Linked DNA regions of Homo sapiens: region 2 is linked to region 1. Evidence: fine-mapped expression QTL. A gene starts in region 1. The other region holds a variant in brackets. All regions are shown on one strand. Distances are between the middles of the regions. Region 1 holds the start of WDR54 (WD repeat domain 54). Region 2 overlaps TET3 (tet methylcytosine dioxygenase 3).

The links.
Region 2: its variant is fine-mapped to the expression of WDR54 in whole blood (TOPMed, PIP 0.93).

What each region holds. Positions count from the first base shown.
Region 1 is chr2:74,415,449-74,425,257 of GRCh38, forward strand. It overlaps WDR54 (WD repeat domain 54), which reads left to right and starts at 6,282. Exons shown (of 10, transcript NM_032118.4): 1 at 6,282-6,368; 2 at 6,705-6,927; 3 at 7,422-7,484; 4 at 7,871-7,937; 5 at 8,030-8,083; 6 at 8,407-8,534; 7 at 9,427-9,527; 8 at 9,627-9,789. The coding sequence starts at 6,706. C2orf81 (chromosome 2 open reading frame 81) reads right to left here and starts at 6,171. Exons shown (of 3, transcript NM_001316764.3): 1 at 6,095-6,171; 2 at 563-793; 3 at 1-479. The coding sequence starts at 6,112. It also overlaps the pseudogene HMGA1P8. RefSeq lists a silencer at 6,102-6,381 and an enhancer at 6,782-6,961.
Region 2 is chr2:74,032,664-74,040,663 of GRCh38, forward strand. The region is part of intron 3 of TET3 (tet methylcytosine dioxygenase 3); the gene reads left to right. Among named protein-coding and RNA genes, the nearest start is that of TET3, 52 kb to the left of the region's middle. RefSeq lists an enhancer at 1-14 and a silencer at 79-224. The variant G/A (reference allele first, on the strand shown) is at 3,381.

The sequences.
Region 1 (9,809 bases):
GCTTCCTCTACAGGACCTCCGGGCCCTGCCTCCTGAAACAGCTCTGATGTGGGAGGAGGGGCCGACGTGACTCTCAGCTGCGGAGAAGGCTCCCAAGATTCCATCTGCTCCTGGGAGCCTCGACCCATCCACGACCTTCCTAAAGGGATCCGGTCCACGCCCCCAGGGTCCTGGGGAAATGCACTCGGGCAGTGAGATGTCGGAAAGGGGAGAGCAGGAGCAATGGCAGAGGAGTCCGGAGAGGCTCCTGAGGAGTGTACTTCGCCTTGGAAGTTCTCCAGGCCCTCCGAGGTGGACGCGTGCAGCACGGGCACTGAACCCTGAGCCCAGGAGTCCGTCGTGCATGCCGAAGGCTCCTCGTCCTCACCCCATGTGGGGTCCTCAGCTACTGCAGATTCTCCCTCGTCCCGGGCCAGGAAGCGCCACTCGGTGATCTGCAGCATGGCCTCCCGGGCCTGGCTGATGGTGAATGGAATGCACTGCGGAGGCGAGAGAGGATCTCAGGTCGGCAGGGAGGGGCGGGAGAGGGAGACGAGTCTGAAGGACCCGGATCCCGGCCCACCTGCTGAGTCAGGTAGACTTTGAAAGCAGAGTCCATGACTCGAGCCAGCAAGTCGGCCAAGATGTCCCCTACGACGTCCTCGCCCTCCTCGAGGGCTGTAAGCGCCATCCACTCGGCCTCACTGAGCCGCCCAGGCACAATATCCACCTGCGGCACTGGCACAGTGGGCGGCCGCACTTTTTCCGCCTTGGACCGGGTCACCCCGCGGTCTCGGACCTGCCTCTCCTGCCTCTGTGAGAACAAAACATGGCAATCAGAGCAGGAAACCAAGAAGTGGAACGGAAGAGTAGCTATAGGCTAGGAGGAAGCTTTCTCAAGTTGTCTAGTGGGAAGGAAAAGGGCCAATTGACGAAGAGCCTACTATGTGACAGATACTTAGTAGATGTTTGACCTAATAATTTTCATTAACAGCCCACTAACCACAATTGACAGATAAAGAAACTGAAGTGGGGAGGCTGAGGAAGGAGAGTCACTTGAACCCGGGAGATGGAGGTTGCAGTGAGCAGAGACTGCGCCACTGCACCCCAGCCTGGCGACAGAGCAAGACTGCGTCTCAAAAAAAAAAAAAAAAAAAAAAAAGAAAAAGAAAAAGAAAGAAAAAAGAAACCGAAGTCTGACAGAAGTTAACCAGCCTTGCTTAGGAGCACACAGTGAGCAAGCCCAGACAATGTGAAGGTTTAACTTCATGGCCCTTATACCAGAGCAAAGTGTTCAAAATTCTTGAGTGTTCAAATTACTTGAGAAAGACAATTCAGTAAACAGTCCTGGAATTATTGGTGCTATTTAGAGTCTTCTCTACATTTTGTTTTCCAGAAAAGGATTTTTTTTTTTTAATTCAAGTAATTGCAAATAGGAAACCAGAGGGGGAGCCCCAGGCTGGGACAAATCATGGCTACCCCTCCCTGACAGACCCGGGGGAGCAGGTGGCCCCTACATGCTTTATGGTGGATTTGGGCCCCCTTGCTCTCTCTGCTGCAGCATCCTAGGGGAGTAGTCAGTCACCCAGCCTGCCATGCCCCAGCCCCTCTTCTCCACGAAGAGTAACCTGGGGGAGGGGATCATGGGCAGAACAGGAGGCAATGTGGATGAACATTTGGCGCTGCTAGCAGCAGCAATGACAGATGTCAAAGAATGGAACATTGAACCAAAAACAAAACAACTGTCCAGAGGTAGTTTGTGAACAAAGGAAAAATGGAACCAGAACCTGGGGGGGTGGCAGGAGCAGGAGGGCTGGGAGTGGGAAGGGTGAGCTCCTTGTTATTGGTGCCCCATCTGAGGAGAGGAAAATGGCCAAGTGGTAGAAGCAAAGTAGGGTTGGGGGAGCAGCCCCAGCCCACCTCAGGTAGCTGCCACAGGGCTCATGGGCCTCACCTGGACAATAGGTGACTGCATCTCCATCACTGCAATATGTACTCAGATCCCAGGCAGACGGTAAGGGGGCTGGGGCCACTGCAAAGAGGGAGTAGGGGACTCACACCCCTCCCGCTTTCCTGTAGCCAATGGGGGCTGTCCAACCTAGTGCAGGGACTAGGGAAGGTGGGGAAGGATGAAAGGTGTGAGCCTCACGTGGTGACAAAGACAGTTTGGCTGGGGGAATCCTGGGGGCCAGCACCCCCCTCCATTGGCCACACCTGCTGCTGCCAGGACAGTGGAGTGGGGTGTGCCAGAATGGGGGCTTGGGCCCCTTTTAAGACCAGGGGAACCCTCCCAGGCCCCTCTATGGGAAGCCAGAGGCAACAGTGGAGGAGCAGAGAAGTGGCTCCCAAACCAAAAGCCCAGAGAGCAATGTCACCACCAAGGGATCAGGGACGCAGCAGGTGCAGGGTGCGGCTAAGCAGGACATTAGCCTTGTCCAGGAGGGCACATGTGTATGAGTGGGTGGACGGGGGGAGGAGGGGGTAGGGATGGGAAGAGGCCAGGGGAAAAGTCCTCTCCACTCAGCCCATAGGGACCTGCAGCGGCTGGTGTGTTGTGTAGTGTGGTGGTGAAGGTGCAGGTGGAAGATGAGGGTGGTGGCTGGAGGCGGTGGTGATGGTGGGTGTAGGGAAGGGGTGGGGGGTGGGAGGTGGGGGGTTGGGAGCAGATCAAAGCTGTCCAGTCCCAGAAGGAAGCTGCTCCTCCAGTGAGGACTCCTGCGAGATGCCCTTCTCTTCCTCCTTCTCCAGTTTTTTGGGTCTTCCCCTTGGTTTCCTTCCCAGAGTTGTGGTGGTTTTCCCGGTCTTGGCAGCACCCTTGTTTTTGCTTCCCTTTGGTCGGCCCCGAGGTCTCTTAGGTGTTGGCACTTCGCTGAGCTCCTTCTGACTCCCTACCAGCGCTGTCCTGGGACTCACCGGAGGCTGCTTGCGCGGCCTGCCACGGCCCCGCTTCTCAGTGCCGTCCTTTTTCTGCTTGGAGGCCAAGGGCTGGCTGGACTTCGAGCTCGACTCGCTCATCTTCCCTTCTCTAAGGACTAGTTGGAAAAGTGATGGCTGGGATGGGCGAACTCGGCCGCTGGCCTGCGGTGCATGCTCCGGTTTGCCGGGAGCAGCGGTGCTGGGCGCTGAGGACAGGCCAGTCTCCACCGCAGCCGCCCCTGGTCGCAAATGCGGATGCCTTCCTGGAGCCGCGCCAGCGCCAGAAATAGCCCAGGCTCGGAGTCCCACTTAGAAGAGCACAGCCCCGGCTCAGGGGAGCTTAAAAAGTTCTCTACATTTTTTTTTTTTAACCAACTATTCTTATCTCCATTTTATGGTAATTTACCCAGTATCATACAAGTAGGATGTAGTGAAGTCAGAATGCATTCACATGCAAGTCTGTCTGACTCCAGAGCCTCTCAAAGACATTTGCAACAAATATGAAAAAAGATAAATATCCCCGAGTAAATTAAAAGCTCATATAAAAAAAAAAATGGCCGGGCGCAGTGGCTCACGCCTGTAATCCCAGCACTTTGGGAGGCCGAGGTGGGTGGATCATTTGAGGTCAGGAGTTCGAGACCAGCCTAGCCAACATGGTGAAACCCCGTCTCTACTAATAATACAAAAATTAGCCAGGCATGGTGGTGGGCGCCTGTAATTCCAGCTACTAGGGAGGCTGAGGCACGAGAATCACTTGAACCCGGGAGGCAGAGTTTGCAGTGAGCTGAGATCATGCTACTGAACTCCAGCCTGGGTGACAGAGCGAGACTCTGTCTCAAAAAAGAAAAAAAAAACTAATAAAATAAAAAATAGAAGAAGAAAAATGGCCAGGCACAGTGGCGCACACCCACAGTACCAGCTGCTCGGGAGGCTGAGGCAGGGGGATTGCTTGAGCCCAGGAGTTCAAGTCCAGCTTGGGCTATATTGCAATAAAAATTTAAACTATAAGAAGAAAAACCATTTAAGATCCCAAAGATAAGCAAAGGACATGACATTTCACAAGAGAGGGACTGTAGATGACTAATAAATATAGTATTGACATTCTGATTTCTAGTTCATCAAATTGGAATTATTTTAAAAACAAGAATACTCAGCATTGGCAAAGGTTTAGTGTGATACCATGCTGCAACAGTATGCATGAAGACATTAAAAAATGTTTTCACTTCCTCAACCCTGCAATTTCAGTTCTATAAATACAACCAAAAGGCATTTTCTGAAATGAAGATAAAAATATATTCTCCAACAAATTCTCTGCGGTATTTTTATAATAGCAGAATATTGAAAACATGTCTTTAAAAAGAGAATAAATAATTGACATGCTATATATACTGAAATATTATGCAATGATTAAAGGTAATCTTTTTTTGTTTGTTTGTTTTTGTTTTTGAGACGGAATCTCGCTCTGTCACCCAGGCTGGAGTGCAGTGGCAAGATCTCGGCTCACTGCAACCTCTGCCTCCCAGGTTCAAGCAATTCTCCTGCCTCAGCCTCCGGAGTAGCTGGGATTACAGGCGCCTGCCACCAGGCCTGGCTAATTTTTTTTCTATTTTTAGTAGAGATGGGGTTTCGCCATGTTGGCCAGACTGGTCTTGAACTGGCCTCAAGTGATCTGCCCACCTTGCAGGCATGAGCCACCAACCCAGCCATTAAAGGTAATCTTTAGAAAGAATTTGCAATGGCATAAAGCAAATGTTTATGATGTAACGTTAATTGAAAGAAGCAGGATACAAACTTACACATCAATTATGATCTCATATATGTAAACCACTATGTGTTCAACAAAAGGAAAACTTCAAAATGATAACAGAGGATACGTTTCCTTCCTATGCTCTTTTCTATTTTGTAAGTTCTCTACAATGAGTTTGTTTCCTTTTGTAATCACTTAAAAAAAAAAAAAGACTAGTCCCCAAAACTCACTTTAGAGACATAAAAAGTTTACAAACAATCTCTTGGGAGCTCCCTCAATTCCCCACAACAGTCTCCCTGAACCTGGTTCCTTCCAAAATGTACTTCCAAATGTGATCTTCCCAAACCTTTGCCTATTGCCCCGCTAAAACCTTGTCTCATATCTGTTTCCTAAAATTCATTATCCCCCCAAATCTGCTGTTTCCTAAGTCTTGCAGAACTCAAAATCCCTGAAGTCTCATTAACCCTATCCACCAGTGAGAACAGCCCTGTAGCAAGCACCAGGAGTGGCCCATAGCCCAGGCCAAGCTTGACTAGAGCAGGGCTGACTGGACTGAGTAAAGAGAGTTGTTTCCTTAGACCTCCCCTCCCAGCCTCGCATCTGACACCCGTGATGGTGACCAGAAGGGACAGAGATATTTTTGCACAAAGGCTCTTCAAATCCGTTTTCTTTCTTCTTCTTCTTTTTTTTTTTTTTTTTTTTTTTTTTTTGAGACAGTCTCTCTCTGTCACCCAGGCTAGAGCGCAGTGGCGCGATCTCGGCTCACTGCAACCTCCGCCTCCCGAGTTCAAGCAATTCTCCTGCCTCTGCCTCCCGAGTAGCTGGGATTACAGGCACCGCGCCACCACATCCAGCTAATTTTTTGTATTTTAGTCGAGACGGGGTCTCGCCATGTTGGCCTGGCTGGTCTTGAACTCCTGAGCTCAGGCAATCCTCCCGCCTCAGCCTCTCAAAGTGCTGGGATTACAGGCATGAGCCATTGAGACCGGCCCCGTTTTCTTTATTTTAAAATTGATTGGCTCTTAAACAATTTGACTTTCAAGTGCAGTCTCTGAATTATTTAATATATTTCTTCCTCTTGAAATTCTCGAAATAGATTTTTTCTGTTATCTTCCCTCTCTAAATGCTCATCCATTTAAATACGCACCACCATGTAAGAGACTTACTACATTCATTAGCTGTTTCAAAATCCACTTCCTGTTCTCGGGCTCTACACCACCCACTGACCCTTTCCCTCATGGCTTGAGTGTAACAAAGCGTTTGAGTGGGCACCGTGCAGGTGTAGGTTTTCTGCCCGAGTACCGACGTGGCTTCCTTGGTCATCTAAACTCCCGCGCGGTGGGCGGGAGCAAGTAGGGGCACTGGGCGGCCCAGAGCCAGCCCACTGTTCCCGACACCGACCTTAACGGCCGACCCTGGCTCTGGCGCATCCCCAGCTGAACTGAAGCTCACCGAGCCTTCGTGCGCCATCGCCAACGCGGTCGCAGCAACGCTGGTGTTTCTGCTGCATCCGGGCCGCGTAAGCCACCTAACAGTCGCCTGGGCAACCACGGGCTCGGGGTCGCTCGCCCCGCCCACAGTTGCCCCGGCAACCGCGCCGCCCGCGGCACGTTCCGGCCGCTCACCCCGCCCAAGGGCCGTGCGTACGTGCGTCGTCTCTATGGTGGCGGCGGATTTGGAGGGACCCTACGAACCAGGAGTCAGGCGAGCCGATCTGGGGCTGCAGGTGTTACCTCTGATCTAGGCCGGGGGCTTCAGGGATCCGAGCCGAGGGAGAAAGCCTTGGGGGCTTCATCACACTTATTTGGCTCGCGGGCTTGGGGCCATCGGGTGGTCCTGTGTCATCCCCATTCCTCCTCTGCGATTCCCCCGTCGCCCCAAAACAGCCCTGGGACTCCCCTGTCTTGCTCCTCGAGACCCTCCCCCATCACCGTCCTCTGGGCACCCCATCCTATGACCCAGTCTCAGGCATCTTCCGAAATGCTCGATGATAGCCGCCCTCGGGCATCTCCGCTGCGTCTGTTTGTAGCGCGCCTGGTGATTCGGCTGCACCCCCACACAGGATGTTCCGCTGGGAGCGCTCCATTCCCCTGCGAGGCTCGGCCGCCGCCCTGTGCAACAACCTCAGTGTGCTGCAGCTGCCGGCTCGCAACCTCACGTATTTTGGCGTGGTTCATGGACCAAGCGCCCAGCTTCTCAGCGCTGCTCCTGAGGGTGTGCCCTTGGCCCAGCGCCAGCTCCACGCTAAGGAGGGTGCTGGAGTGAGTCCCCCACTTATCACTCAGGTGAGGCATGGAGCTGGGAGTGATGTTGCTGAACCCAGTCCTACCCCCAGCCTTTTCTCTCCAAACCTTCAGGAGCAGGCATGTCCTAACCTCAGAATCTCCCCAGGCATGTCCTAACCTCAGAATCTCCCCTCTCCTGCCGGGCGCGGTGGCTCACGCCTGTAATCCCAACACTTTGGGAGGCTGAGACGGGCACTTGAGGCCAGGAGTTCGAGACCAGCCTGGCCAACATGGTGAAACCTCTTCTCTACTAAGAATACAAAAAAAATTAACCGGGTGTGGTGGCGTGCACCTGTAATCCCAGCTACTTGGGTGGCTGAGGCAGGAGAATCGCTTGAACCCAGGAGGCTGAGGTTGCAGTGAGCCGAGATGGCGCCACTGCACTCCAGCCTGGGCCACAGAGCAAGACTCCGTCCCCCAAAAAAAAAAAAAAAACAAACAAACTCATCTTCCCTGCTTTGATTTTCTCCCTACACTGATGCACCTCCCTCCAGGTCCACTGGTGTGTCCTCCCCTTCCGAGTGCTGCTGGTACTCACCTCACATCGAGGAATACAGGTAAGAAGAGGACTCTCCTGCTTGCCCCACCAGAGCCTTCTCAGCTTCCCTGCCAGGCTTCCAGACTTTCCCACTTGCCTCTAAACACTTCCAGACTTTTCACATGCTTGGCCCACTCACTCTTTTTCTATTTCTTATCTTCAATCTTTCCATCTTTTCCAGTTTCCAAGTGCCACCTCCAGTATCTGCCCCTTTACTAGCTGTATGTCCTTACACTATTAACTTCTCACTCTCACTGTTGTCCTCTGAAAAAATTAGGATAAAAATAGTACCTACATCCCAGATTTGTTTTGAGGATTAAATGGGCTAAGGCTAACACGGATATGTGAAGTACTCAGCAGAGGTCAGTTGGGTTATGCCCCCTGGTTCTTGCCCCGGTCTTCCAGATGTACGAGTCCAATGGCTACACCATGGTCTACTGGCATGCACTGGACTCTGGAGATGCCTCCCCAGGTACCTGCAGGACCAAGTGGGGTGGGGGCAGGGAGTGTTTGCTAGGGCTGCAGGAGGGGATATTTCTGATCATTCTCCCCTTTCATATTCAGTACAGGCTGTGTTTGCCCGGGGAATTGCTGCCAGTGGCCACTTCATCTGTGTGGGTGAGGGAGCCAAGTGCAGGGCATGGAGGGGTGCTGGGGCATGTGGGCTGTGGCCAGGAGAATAATGAGGGCCTGAGGAAATTGTGGAAAGTTAGAGGGAAGGGTGGAAGTGGAGTGGAATCAGAGACTCCAGTAAACCATGGAAGGGTTCAGAGGGTCAGGGTGGGATAAGACAAGGCTAGTGAATGAAGGGGCATGGCCGTTGGAGCAGTGAGAGGGGGTTTTGTTACTAAGGTTTCTGGGATGGAGTAAGTGTTGAGTATGGTGGCTGGAGACCCAGGAGGGTCAGGAAGTCATCACTGGAGTACTGGTTCTGGATACAGGAACGTGGTCAGGCCGGGTGCTGGTGTTTGACATCCCAGCAAAGGGTCCCAACATTGTACTGAGCGAGGAGCTGGCTGGGCACCAGATGCCAATCACAGACATTGCCACCGAGCCTGCCCAGGGACAGGTGAGTGGACTTCCCCTACCCATCTGGGAGCCTTCCCCACCCTGGGAGGCAGGGGACCTGGCTTTGAGTCTTGGCTCTGCCACTAAACAGGTGGATGGCTTTGGGCAAATCTACATTTTCCTAGTCTTCAGCAACCAGGTTCAGTGATAAAGCCAGAGATACTTTACATTTATGTAGTATTTTATAGTTAATTAAGACTTTATAATACTGATGTGAAATGAGGAGTTGGAACAAATGGTTTCTAAGATACTTTCCAGCTCTGAAATGTGCAGCTTCCTTCTCTAGGGCAAGTCCCACCTATTCAGGCCCAGCTCCAGTGCCATCCATCCTCTCCAGGAAGCCTTCCCCATATTCTAGCTCCCACTGATGTCTCTTAGCTGAAACCTGAATTGGCACTGCCCTCAAAAGACAACTCTTGTCTCCCCAAGTAATTTGCAAACCTCTTGAGAACAGGGTGTATATTTTCTTATTCATATTCTCCATTGTACCTGGCATAGGGCTAGGCCCATAGGTTGTGTTGGCTGCCTGGTGTTGGGGGTGCAGGGGCCCAGGGTCTAGTCATGACTGTGACTGGTTCACTACGAGACCTCCAGAAGGTCACGACACTGTGGCCTCAGTTTTATCATCCATCCAGTGAGGCAATTATGCACCCCCTCCTAATGTTATTGGGGGATGGGACTCCATGAAGAAATTCAAGGAAAGCAGTTCATGCTTCCCAAGGGAACCCTGGTGGTAGGGGTGGTTTCTGATGGGTCTAGCTAGTGAGAGCTCCACACCTTGCCCTTTCCCTGGAGAGGCAAAGATGCACACACTGCCTCCCTTCCCCTCCTGCCCTGTATACAGGACCATAGCAGGGGAGAAAGGGAAGGGTTGATCTTGCCTTTCCCTTCAGGATTGTGTGGCTGACATGGTGACGGCAGATGACTCAGGCTTGCTGTGTGTCTGGCGGTCAGGGCCAGAATTCACATTATTGACCCGCATTCCAGGATTTGGGTAGGTGAGGCAGAAAGGGTAGAGGGCTTCCTGAGATAGCTTCAGGCTGGGGAGTAGGATTTGATCTGGGCAAAACAAAGTTGGGTGTCACCCTTGCAGAGTTCCGTGCCCCTCTGTGCAGCTGTGGCAGGGGATCATAGCAGCAGGCTATGGGAACGGACAAGTGCATCTATATGAGGCCACTACAGGAAATCTACATGTCCAGATCAATGCCCATGCCCGGGCCATCTGCGCCCTGGACCTGGCTTCTGAGGTGGGCAAGGTAAGTCTCCTCCTCTGTAC
Region 2 (8,000 bases), 380 kb before region 1:
ACCGGCTGCTTGAGGCAGGGGCTTCCGTCAGGAGAGCTGGATCCTGCTCTGGGCCGCAGATCAAGAGGCTAGGGGTGGGGCATGGGGAGCCTGCAGAGCAGCCAGCAGCTGTGCTCCCCCTTCACCCCCACCTGCTGCAGGGGAGCGTGTGCTGCCCAGGCGATAACTTTGCATAGGTTAGAGTTGCAGGGCTATATTTTGGAGTTCTGGTCCGAGAACAGCAAGTTAGTTACATAGAACTTTTAATGGGTGGGAGTTTCAGGCTTGGCACCCCATCTCAACTAGGCTTATCTTCACCTTCCAGTGCGTCTCATCTCTTAGAAATTTTCTTCATTTTCTTTCTGCATTATGTGTGATCTGCCTCTGTGTTATAACTGCGTACAGCTCTCTAGCAACAGAAATAGCACAAAAAATACCCAGAAATTTTCCCTGACTGCTCCCTTCTCGTCTCGTTCACAGACATGTGTAGTTTGCAGTTTCAGGTGTTTTATAGGTGTTCTATTCTTAAATCTTTTTCCCCTAAATAAAAATGAAAATACCTATGATAAATTTTGGAAACTATAAACGAGAAAGTTACTCATCCTCTATCACGCAGAGGATAAGCACTGTTAACATTTCTGTATGATTCCCCTTGCTGTTTTGTGTGTTTACACAGGCATGCGTTGTGATTGAATTGAACTGTTAAATTGGGCAATATTTTGAATCCTATTTTTTCCCCCATTTCAAATATTATGTACTTCCCCCATCATAAAAACCTTCTGAAAGCATTCATTTAATAAGTACATTCTCAAGTTTCACTTTTTCATTTAATACATTTAGTTTTATGTTCTTATTCCATATCATTTTAAGCAGTTGTGTACATCTACTGATTAAATATTATAAACAGGCATACGTTGGAGATACTGCAGGTCCAGCTCTAAACCACTGCAATAAAGTGAATATGGCAGTACAGCTGGTCACGTGAACTTTTTGGTTTCCCAGTGCATGTAAAAGTTGTGTTTACATTATATTGTAGTCTAGCAAGTGTGTGATAGTATTATGGCTAAAAAAATGTGTACATACCTTAATTTTAAAATACATTTTTGCCAAAAAATGCTAACAAAGTAAGCACATGCTATTGAAAATGACACCAGTAAGATTTGCCCAATGTGGCTGGGCACGGTGGCTCACTCCTGTAATCCCAGCACTTTGGGAGGCTGAGGCGGGCGGATCACCTGAGGTCAGGAATTCGAGACCAGCCTGGCCAACATGGCCAAATCCCATCTCTACTAAAAACACAAAAATTAGCCAGGGATAGTGGTGGGCACCTGTAATCCTAGCTACTTGGGAGGCTGAGGCAGGAGAATCGCTTGAACCCAGGAGGCGGAGGTTGCAGTGAGCCGAGATCGTGCCATTGCACTTTAGTCAGGGCAACAAGAGCAACACTCTGTCTCAGAGAAAAAAAAAGAAAAAGAGACTTGCCCAATGTGAGGTTGCCACAAACCTTAAATTCGTCATTAAAAAAAAAAAACAACAAACCACCCCCAGTATCTGTGAAACACAATAGAATGAAGCACAATAAAACAAGGTATGGCTGTATTATAGTTTTTTTTTTTATGTATTACTTGAACCATACTTGACCCTAGTATTTTATATATGTTAAACAGATAAAGCATAATAATAAACACATGCCAGTTCCCCAAGTTAGCTGGAATATTGCCAACATCATTGAAATTACCTGGGTGTTTTCCCCCAGCCCTATCTCCCTTCTTCACCTCCAGAGGTAACCATTACCTTGAATTTTGTTATCATTCCCTTGCTTTTTAAAGTCTTCATTATATAAGTTTGCATTTCTGTACAATACATTTAATTTTGCTTGCTTGTTTGAGGTTTGTAGACTCAGTAGGACATATGTAGTCCTCGAGCATTGATTAAAAAAAAAAAAAAAAAAACCCTGTTGTAGATTCTGGGATTCATTGATGTTCCTGTGGCTCATTCATTGACACTGCTCTATAATATTCCATTGTCCATTCTGTAGTTTATGCTCCTTTAGAAATACTTCCATGATGTGATTTTTATGAGTAATGCTGCCATGAAAATTTCTGTACATGTCTCCTGATGCATGTGTACAAAGCTTTCCTAGGAGTCGGATTGCTGGGCTGTAGGAGATGTGCATGTTTGACATTAAAAGGTAGCACCACAAACCTTTTCAAAGTATTTGTTCTGTTTTGCCTTCCTGCCAGTGAGGTATAAGAAGTGGTTGTTGAGGGCCGGGCGCAGTGGCTATGCCTGTAATCCCAGCACTTTAGGAGGCTGAGGCAAGCAGATCACGAGGTCAGTAGACCAAGACCATCCTGGTTAACATGGTGAAACCCTGTCTCTACTAAAAAATACAAAAAAAAAAAAAAAATCAGCCAGGTATGGTGGCGGGCGCCTGTAGTCCCAGCTATTCGGGAGGCTGAGGCAGGAGAATGGTGTGAACCTGGGAGGCGGAGCTTGCAGTGAGCCAAGATCGCGCCACTGCACTCCAGCCTGGGCAACAGAGTGAGACTCCGTCTCAAAAAAAAAAAAAAAAAAAAGTTATTGGGGCCGGGCATGGTGGTTTGAGGTCAGGAGTTCAAAACCAGCCTGGCCAACATGGTGAAACCCTGTCTCTACTAAAAATACAAAAATGAGCTGGGCATGGTGGTGGGCACCTGTAATCCCAGCTACTCGGGAGGCTGAGGCAGGAGAATGGCGTGAACCTGGGAGGCGGAGCTTGCAGTGAGCCGAGATCGCGCCACTGCACTCCAGCCTGGGCAACAGAGCAAGACTCCATCTCAAAAAGAAAAAAAAAAATGTAGTTATTGGGGCCGGGCATGGTGGTTTGAGGTCAGGAGTTTGAAAGCAGCTTGACCAACATGGTGAAACCCTGTCTCTACTAAAAATACAAAAATGAGCTGGGCATGGTGGTGGGCGCCTGTAATCCCAGCTACTCGGGAGGCTGAGGCAAGAGAATCACTTGAGCCCAGGAGGTGGAGGTTGCATTGAGCCGAGATCGTGCCATTGCACTCCAGCCTGGGCGACAGAGTGAGACTCTGTTTCAAAAAAAGTATGTGGTGGCTCCTGCCTGTAATCCCAACACTTTGGGAGGCCGAGGTGGGTGGATCCCTTGAGGCCAGGAGTTTGAGACTAGCCTGACCAACATAATGAAACCCCTTCTCTACTAAATAAATAAATAAGCAAGCAAGCTGGGTGTGATGTTGTGCGCCTGTAGTCCCAGCTACTTGGGAGACTGAGGTACAAGAATCATTGAGCCCGGGAGGCAGAGGTTTCAATGAGCCAAGATCCCACCACTGCACTCCAGCCTGGGCGACAGAGTGAGACTCTGTCTCAAAAAAAAGTTCTTGCTAAACCCCGTC[G/A]GCACTTGGTATTAAACTAAAATACCCTCTCGCGGTGCTTACTATGTACCTGGTACTGTTATAAATGCTCTTCATATATTGTTTAATTTTCATAATAATCTTGTGAGATAGGTACTGTTACTCATCCCCAATTTACAGGTGACAAAACAGAGGCGCAGAGAGATTAGCTAACTTGCTTATGGTCACACAGCTAGTAAGTGGTGGGGCCACGATTCAAACTAAATGTTCTTCCTCTTCAGTCCTACGTAATAGGTGTAAAATGGAATCTTCTTGTGATCTTCTTTTGTATTTTTCTGATTACTGATGATACTGAGTATTTTTTCATATGTTTATTCCCTTTTCATGAAGAAGAAATATAAAATTTAAAACCATCTCCCTATTGTTGGGGCACTCAGGTTGTTTGTAATTCTCTGCTGTTCATGCTTGAGGGAAAATCATTGGCACATGTAGCTTTTTTATGTCTTCTGTTGGCTTGTTTACTTTTACATTTCCAGTGAAATTAAGAGTACTTAGTGGTTAAAAATGGCTGTGCTCTTCCACATTGCCTTGTGATCTTGAGGCAATTACTTGCCCTCTCTGTGTTTAGTGTCCTTATCTCTGATCTCCACCTTGGAGGAGCCTGTGGTGATTAAATGAGATAAGTGAATGTGCGACAATTTGCATGATACTCTGCCTGTCATAAGAGGGTTCCATCAGAGTCACGTAGAGACTTTTCCTGGTTCCTTCTTTTCCTTTCTTCCTCGAACCCACATTAGTTACTGTTAGGTCAGAGGACATGAACAAAGTCCTGTGCTTCTGCCAGATATGATGACCTCAGGGAATTAGGCCCATTTCAGCTTTTTTCTAAGTATCACCCCAGCCACTGACAGATTTGCTGTATCTGCCCATTTTGTAGTAGGAAAAAAAATTAGATTTTAAAATGTTTTACTGGTATGCATGTAGTAACCACAAGAACAACTGCCTCCCCCTCCCCCCATATAAGAATACCCTCTGCCAACGTATAATGCTCTCAAGAAGTTAGACATAATCCTGGAGTTGCTGTCTGCAGAGGTGGCCAGTTTGGGTATGGAGGGTGCAGACATGGGACTGGGCTAGCCAGTGTGCCCATGGGCACACACTCACTTCTGCAAGAACAGGCAGATGTGCACCTCCTCTGCAAGGGTTCCCCTAAAACTCTCTTTCTGCACTCGCTTATTAGTTTTATCAATAAATCTTCCGAAGGGAGAATCCTCTTAAGAAATGAATAATTGATCAACCCTAGACAGAACATGCCATAAATACAACCCATTTGCTATTAGAGAGAGTGGGGCCATCCATTTGGTGGCAAGGAAGAAGGAATTAGCTTTGTAAGGAGGTGGATTCTGAACTCTAGGACTGAGATAAAGGATGAGGCTGGAAAGAGCAGCCCCTTGAACAGCTGCTGTGGATCAGAGTAGCTGAGCTGGTGGTATGTGTGGTTGGGAAAGTACTGGGTGGAGTTTACTGGCTTAGCAGGGTGGGGTGTTGCCACCACTATCTTGGAGTCCCATGAGAATTCGCTTCAGGAGATTCCTTTGCAGAGAATGGGCTACTGGGCTCTGAAGGTTGACTACAGGCTAGTTCATTCTGGCCAAAAACACCTTCTTGGACATGGTTCTTCTAATATGGTGTGTAACTGCTGACAGTCAGCAAAACAGCCCTCCAGACTCTGTTCCTCTTGTAACTTCCCCTTTCTTAAAGGCCTTAAGAAGGTATAGCCAATCAGGACTTTGCTCTTTCAAGATAACATTCTTGTCTTCTCTCTTCCCTATTTTCCTTTAATAGAGAATTGCTGATCTGGTTTTGATGTGTTGAGAGTAAGGAAGGATTTGGGAAACCTGGTGTCATATCTGTATCCTTCACTGTGTTGTTGACTGAACGAGGTGTTTGGGGAGTGGCGTTCCACACTTTTCCAGCCTTGCCTGGCATCTGGGGGGCTCTGGAGTCCCCTGGGTGGGGAGAGCAGGGTGCTGCTGTTGAATGCCTGCAGATGTCTGGAGGACCAGCTCTGGGGATTTGGGAGTCTAAGAAGACAGTGCACTGTAGAGGAGGAGGCAGGGGACCTTGTGAGCTAGCCAGGCGGGGTGCAGGGTCACCTTCAGCACAGGGTCCCCAGCTCTCTGAAGGTGGGAAATGTGACTGGGGTTGGCGATGCTGTATGCACATATGAACTCTTCATGGAGTGTAGTGAAGAGTTATGTCTCTTCTTGGATCTGAGAAGGGCATTTTCTCTGCCTGAGTAATGTTTCCTGCCTCTCAGTCTCCTAGTAACAAATTCCTGCTGCCCCTAGGTGATGGGAACACACCTCCAACTTGGGGAAGACCTAGCCTGGGATGGGCATACCCCCTTTCAGTGATATTGTGAAGCAGGGAAGAAACCTGATGGGGTTGGGTGTGAGGACCCAGCGAGGGCAGGGAAAAGGGGTTTGCACCTGGAAGTTGGCAGTAAGATGTGCAGCACTAGCACCTTGGGCTTCTCTGGAGGCCCCTGTAGCCTTTGCAGACCTCTACCATGTGTGCATTGTAATGGGTGCCATAATAGCAGAGAGATCACCAACTCTGCCTAGAGCTTCCATGGGTCATCTCAAAGTATAGGGGTGATGAGGCTTGCACCAGCCAGGTCCCTAGGGAGGAAGCAGTGACAGAGCTTTTTGAATGCATTCTAGAGACTCCGGTAGGTTTTGAAGGTGTGGCAGATGCCTGGTTCCCTAGGAGCAAATGGTGTAGTTGACCATACACTCTTACGAAAAGATCCCTAACAGAACGTGGCTGTGCACGGTAACTGTAGGCTCTGGGGCAGCCTGTGGTGGAAAGGACTGGTCAAGGAGGACTTTCTCAGGGAGGGATTGATTCTGTTCCTTGTCTCACTGCTAAATTTAATCACTTAACCTCCATAACCACGTTTCATCCCCATCTGTCTGCTAGTGCCTTAGTTCAGGTCCTTATTGTTACTAATCTGGACAGTTGCATAGTCTCCTAACTGGTCTTTGGGTCACCAGCCTCGAACCCTGCAGTCTGTCTTCTGCAAGATGCCTGAATGCCCCTCCTGAGATGTAAATCTGCTCTCTGTAGCATTCAGGCTGTGGTCCACACACCTGCCTCCCCTGCCTTTGCGATCAAGATACACTCAACAGCTTATGCATCTCCAAGCCTGCCAGGGCTTATGATTCTGTGCCTTTTCACATGCTATTCCTTCCATCTGGAACTCCTGCAGAATTCTTCCCCTTCTTCCAAAATACCTGCTACTTTCTCCAGCCTCTCTGAGATTTCTTTGAGATAAAACCTTCCTGGACACCCACCTGCCCACCTGCCCAGATAGCTGTATATACTGAGCCACCACAGGCCCCTGTAGATACTGCTTTCACAGCACTGATATGATTTAGGGCATTGACTTATATATAGGCCTTTTTCTTCCTTTTCATCTTAAAACTTTTTGGGGTCCTGAAATACATAGTCTGGTCTATTGTCAGGCAACAAATCACCCCAAAACACAGTAGTATAAAACAGTAATCATTTTGTTATGCCCAGGGATTCTGTGGATTGGGAAGTCAGAAGTGACAACAGCATGGGTAGCTTCTATATGTTCCTTAATATTTAGGGTCTCAGCTAGGAAGGCATAAAAGCTGGAGGTAACTTAATGACTGGGCTGGAATCCTCGAAGGGCTCCTTCACTCACACATTTGGCAGATGATGGCAGCTGTTGGCTGGGACCTCAGCTGGGAATGTCAGCTGACTCCTCCATGTGGCCTCTCCACATGGCCTGGGCTTCCTCACAGCATGGTGACTGGGCTCCAAGAGTGAGAATCCCAAGAGAACCAGGCAGAAGCTGAATTGCCTTTTATGATCTAGCTTTGAAAGTCATGTAGCATCACTTCTATTATCACGAGCCCACCCAGATTGAAGAGGAGGGAACATAGACCCCCACCTCTCCATGGGGGAAATGTCCAAGTCACACAGTAAGAAGAGCATGTGGAATGGAGGGAATGTTGTGGCTATCTTTGGAACACACAGTATGTCACACGTATTAAGCACTCGATGCATATGAATGGCATTCTTAAACTGAAGATTGAAGCCAGGGTGGACAATGAGGAAGAGTTATGAAGTTGGTGGCTGGGAGTCTTAAGAGAGGGTATGTTCAAGAGATTGTAGAGTGGAGAAGAGTGTGTGTGTGGTGTGTGTGCATGCACACATATGTGTGGTCAGGGAGGGGGCTTGGGGATACATAGAGTTGCTTAAAGGACCGACTGTCAGGTGAGACAATTAAAACATACACACAGAAGGACCCAGATTGGGAAGGCAGGGATGGAAAGGGAGGAGATAAAATTGAGAGACAGTTCACATTTAGAATTGTTTGGATCCAATGACTGCACACATTGGAAGAATATGGGTAACATTTGGGTTGGGAATGTTGGTGAATGCAAAAATAGGAAAGTTGGGAAAGTTGCTCTCAGGAGGGAGAGTTCAGTTCTGTTTTAGACAAGCTGACTCTCAGTGGGCTTACGGCATGGTCTAGGGGTTGGAGCTAGCTGGAGGGTAGTTGAGAAGTCCAGACAGAAAGCAGACATTTAGACCAGGCATGGGGGCTCACACCTGTAATCCCAG